Regions from separate parts of the Homo sapiens genome. Here region 1 is linked to region 2. The links come from fine-mapping of genetic effects on gene expression. Tissue or cell type: blood mononuclear cells. Region 2 holds a variant in brackets; the other region holds the start of a gene. All regions are shown on one strand. Distances are between the middles of the regions.

What was found. PIP is the estimated chance that this variant, and not a neighbour inherited with it, causes the effect.
Region 1: it holds the start of CPNE2, and the variant in region 2 is fine-mapped to the expression of CPNE2 in blood mononuclear cells (TOPMed, PIP 0.99). The same link has a PIP of 0.9 or more in whole blood.

Annotation. Positions count from the first base shown.
Region 1 is chr16:57,091,443-57,093,942 of GRCh38, reverse strand. It overlaps CPNE2 (copine 2), which reads right to left and starts at 1,360. Exons shown (of 16, transcript NM_152727.6): 1 at 1,153-1,360. RefSeq lists silencers at 869-1,278, 1,339-1,388, 1,499-1,748, 1,769-1,838.
Region 2 is chr16:57,122,579-57,125,078 of GRCh38, reverse strand. It overlaps CPNE2 (copine 2), which reads right to left. Exons shown (of 16, transcript NM_152727.6): 10 at 1,606-1,665. Among named protein-coding and RNA genes, the nearest start is that of CPNE2, 31 kb to the right of the region's middle. The variant GA/A (reference allele first, on the strand shown) is at 1,161.

The DNA.
Region 1 (2,500 bases), 31 kb after region 2:
TCATAGGTGGGGTTCAGACCCAGGTCTCCCAGGCCTCCCCATCAGGGCAGGCTGCAGCTGCCAGGGATTACAATCTGCGCACACCGCCTGTTTCCTGAAAACCATGGGCTCCCTGCAGTCCGTGAAGCTGTGGATGCCCAAGGGGCAGAAAAAGCCCCCCAACCTTTGATGACAGCACACACCTCTAAGGGAGCAAAAAACTAAGGCAGACAAAAAAAAGGGCGTTTTGTCTGGAAGATCATTCTTCCAGACCCCTTGTCCCTTCCCCCAGTACATATGGGGCAGGGGATTCAGATGCAAGATGAACACCCTATTAGCTACCAGAGCCAGCAGCATCTGTGACCTTGGGCAAATCACAGCCCCCTTTGAAGCAGCCCCTTCCCCATAGGAGAGCTTCTTGAACTCGGGGGGACGTGGAGCGAGGCTGGGGGATGGGGTGGGAAGAGCAGGGAAGAGGGTGTAAGACCCCTCTATTTTCAGAGGAGCATCGCTGTGAGAAACGGGGAATAAGAGAGGGCCTTGTTCGCCCGCTCTCTCCATGCCCACCCCCACACCCCCTTTAAACACACAGGTGCCAGACAGCTTTTTCGCAAAAACTAGTTTGCAAACACACTCCGACTTCTGGGAAGCTGCCCAGCTCCACTCCCCCTCTGCGCTCCCAGTACCGGGGCTGGGAGCCGGCCCTCCGGCAGTTGCCTGGGGCAGGGGGTGGGTGTTGAGGGGTGGGAGGAGGGCAGAGGGGAGCGGAGAGGAGCCAGCGCCCGCCGAGAGCCAGGGCGACCTCACGCCTTCAGCAGCTGCGGCAGCGGCGGGTCTCCACCTCCCGTACGCCCTCCAAGCCCCTCGGGGCGGGTGGAAGGGTCCCCAAAGCAGCTGGGCTCGGACCCCCGAGGGCGCCCCCCTCCCCAGGGACCCCGCCCGCCCTTCCCCGCAGTCCGGGAGCCGGCGGGGCGCCCCCGCGTGGCCGGGTCGGAGCTGAGTCACCGAAGCGCCGGAGTCCGGGTTCGCGCTGGCGGCGGGGGCTAGAGCGCCGCAGCCCCCCGAGGCGGAACCCGGGTTCCTTCGGACCCGCAGCTGGATCAAAGAGCCCAGCCCCAAGGCCGAAGTTGGGCACTCACGCCAAGCTGCCCCGCCTGCCCGGGCCCCACTCACCGCAGGTCCCGCGGGCGCCACCGCCCTCACCGCACGGCTGCCGCTGCCCGCGCTCCGAGCCGCCCGGGCATCCCCGGGAGCTGCTCCTGCTCGGCCGGGCCCGCGGGCGCGGGACAGGCTCAGGGCGCTGCCCGCGCGGCCACGGCCCGCTCGCGTGCGCTCCCAGCCGCTCGGGGTCCGGTCCTCCTCCCGGGCCGGGCGGGCGGGCGGCGGCGGCGGCGGCGGCTCGGGCTCCTCCCTCCGGCCGAGGAGGGGAGTGGGGAGGGAAGTGGGAGGCGAGGCGGGAGCTTCCTGGAGGGGCGCGCGCTCTCCCACGGGAGGAGCGGGGGCGCTGTCCCGCCCGCAGTCCGCCGCTCCCAGCCCGCGCCCGGCGCGCCGCGGCACTCGGGGCGCCTGGCACCGAGGGGGCCCGAACGTTCGGGCCGAACGCGAGGGTCCGAAGGTTCCAGGCTGGGACTCAGGTGGCTGAGGATCGGAACAACGCGGCTTCGCGCCCTCCCCAGGCCTGCTTTGCCCGAGCCTCTGGCACCTCCGAGTTCCGAGCGCCGTGCGCTCAGGGCCACCGACGCGGGAACAGAGGGGTGGCCTCAGCCCGGGCCTGCGGGGCCCCAGGGCCGCTTGGACCCCCAGCGCCGATGGGAGCGGCGCTGCGCCCTCGGGGCAACACCCAAGGCTGGGTTCTGGGTTGTATTGGGCAGGATTAGGGCCGCAGTGTTTTCTTCCCTTTTTTTTTTCAATAGCAAAAGAGCTCGGCATTTTCTTGCCGCCAGAGATTGGAAATATGACATATTTCTCTGACACAGACGATAAGATAAAGACGGATCCGAACTGGGCCTGGGTCTACTCATCCGTGCGGAAAATTAGGCGAGTCTTTAAGGCCTTGGAGCCCAGGCCTCCTTTTCCCTAGAAGAGGCACCAATTCTTAGGACACTTGTCTGTCGCTGGGCGCTCAAGCCTTTGGCCACTCCGCGGTATTTAGGTGCTCTCTGGGCAAGTTCACCACCGGGCATCAGAAGGCTGAGCCTCACGTAACCAGATTCTGGGGGGCGGGGCTTTCCCGGGGATCTCAAGGCCATGTCCACAGCCCTTGGCCCTGGGGCTCAAGGACTGGGCAGCTGAGGGTTAATGCCGAGTGCTTCCATTGTGGCTTTTCGATTCCAGGCAGGTGAGGGTTAATGTGGGAGCCTCGCGCGCTGCAGCCTGTGAGCCTCCCTCCACGTCTGAGTCACTGGCACTTTGCAGCCTTACAGGGGCCGAGACTAAACAGCCCCCGGGGCTCTGAGCTTTGTTCTCTGCCTGCCTGTCACCCATCCATCTTTCCTTTCTCCAAGCTCTCTTCACCTTTCTT
Region 2 (2,500 bases):
TACATGGGAACTCAGTTGCTGTGGGGTAGGAGAGAAGGGGCCACCCATCCAAATCCTCACATGGCTAGAGGGTCACTCCCCCAGGTCAGGGGCAGCATGTCTTAGTCCTTGAGGGACCGCTGCAGGGACACAGCCTAGAGCCCGGCACAAAGGAGGCAGTCAGTGTGAGTTCGCTGAATGAACAAACTCGTGCAGGAGGAACAGGAGGGCCTGGCCTCTGTGCAGGGGAGGGGGCAGTGGTGGGCAGCAGGGTCAGAAGTCAGCAAGGCCAATCCTCTGACTCCATGGCATCCTGTGATGCCCTCCATTTCCCATTAGGATCTAGGGGTGGTGATGGGGAACGGTGAGACAACATGGGGAGGTGGGCAGAGCGTGGCACCCCAGCAGCTTCCTCCCTTCTGGGCCTGAGGCTCCCTTGGGGTGAGGAAGCAAAGCCAGGATGAGTGGCACAGAGTCTGTGGGGCAAAGACTCCAGGCCACAGGCAAGGTGGCAGTTCATTCTTCCAACGAGAAATGATGGAGCACCTGCTATGTGCCAGTTACTGTGTGATATGCTGGGGTTGGAGTGGAAGCAAAATAAACAAAGTGCCCACACTTAAAAGCACTCACATTCCAGTGGGTGCGACGATCAGGGAGAAGCGACAAATGCATATGAATCTCGGGGCGGCAAGTGCCCAGAAAATAGGAAAATAGTGAGGGCCAGGCCCAGTGACTCATGCCTGTAATCCTAGCACTTTGAGAGGCCAAGGTGGGCAGATCGCTTGAGCCCAGGAGTTTGAGACCAGCCTGGGCAACATAGCAAAACCCCATCTCTACAGAAAATGCAAAAATTAGCTGGGCATGATGGCATGCACCTGTAATCCCAGCTACTCAGGAAGCTGAGGTGGGAGGATCAACTGAGAGCTGAAGGTGGAGGCTGCAGTGATCTGAGATCGTGCCACTGCACTCTAGACCACGTGACAGAATGAGACGCTGTCTCAAAAAAAAAAAAGAAAAGAAAAGAAAAGAAAAGAAAGAAAATAGGAAGATATGACAGAGGAGCAGCAAGGCATTGAGGGAGGGAGGGCTCCCTGGAAGGTGACCTCCGTTACCTCCTCAGGCCTGAAAAATGGCAGGTAGGCAGCCATGCAAAGGTTCTGGGGAAGTGTTTCAGGCAGAGG[GA/A]ACAACAAATGCAGAAGGAACAGCAAATGCAAAGTTCTAACATGAAGCAAAGCTTGGCATGTTGGGCAAACAGAGGAAGAGTGTGGTTAGAGCCCAGTGAGCAAGGAGGAAGGAGGCTGCAGATGAAGGAGGCAGGGATCGCTGAAGGCCTTGTGGCCAGTGAGGAGGAATTTGTTTTCCTCCACCCGCAGAAGGAGTGTAGCCACCAGACTGAAAGCTGTGCAGCTGTGCTCTGACCTGTAGTTAAGCCCCAACTCAGGCACACCCAGCAGGACCAGACAGCCCACTTATGCCCTCCTCACTAGGCCGCACACACTCTTTGCCCCAGGGAAGTCCTTCCTGAAGTCTACCCTAAGTCCCTCTGGCTGCACTAGTGGCCCAAGTCTTCAGGGAGGACCCTCACTGGGATGGGGGTGCAGAGGGAGCCAGCGGGGAGAGCCTTACGGTGAACATGAGCTGGCAGCCTCCCAGGATGTAGTCAAGGAAGGAGTAGTCTCGGTTTATCTGGAAGAAAGCGGATGAGTCAGTGGGTCCCCTTGACTTGGTCACACTCCCCATGGGGGAGTTGTTGCTCTATGTCCTGCAACCTCAGTAGGGACAAGGAGGTCAAAAAAAGCTGATGGGCCTGATCTAATTACAACAAAACCCAAATCTCTCTATAACAAAGCCTTCAGTGCAATGGTTCCTAATGGGTGGGGGACTCACAGAGACCCCCACACCCCACAGATACACAGACACATGCTGGTTCCAGGCAGGGTGCCAGGGCCCAGTGTCAGTTACCTGACACAGAGTGTCTCAATTTGTCACTGTTAGGTACTTACCTTCTCCTGGCCCTTATTAATCTACCTTTTTAACAAAGAGAAAGAGCAGGCCTCCAGCTCAAGGCCTTCCTCTAGAAGTTGTTTTGATGGTCTTTGTCTCTTTTTGGCAAAGAAGGCAGATCTTTTAATTTTGGTAGAGTTCTAATAATCTCTTTCTAAATAAATGTATTTAAGTTAAAAAAAAAAAAAAAGAGAAAAGAAACAGGCCAGGTATAGTGGCTCATTCCTGTAATCCTAGCAGTTTGGGAGGCCAAGGCAGGCAAATCACTTGAGGTCAGGAGTTCAAGACCAGCCTGGTCGACATAATGAAACCCCATCTCTACTAAAAACACAAAAATTAGCCAGGCGTAGTGGCATGCACCTGTAATCCCAGCTATTTGGGAGGCTGAGGCAGGAGAATCCCTTGAACCTGGAAGGCGGAGGTTGCAGTGAGCTGAGATCACGCCACTGCACTCCAGCCTGGGCAACACAGTGAGACTCTGTCTCAAAAACAAAAACAAAAAACAATAATACAGGGA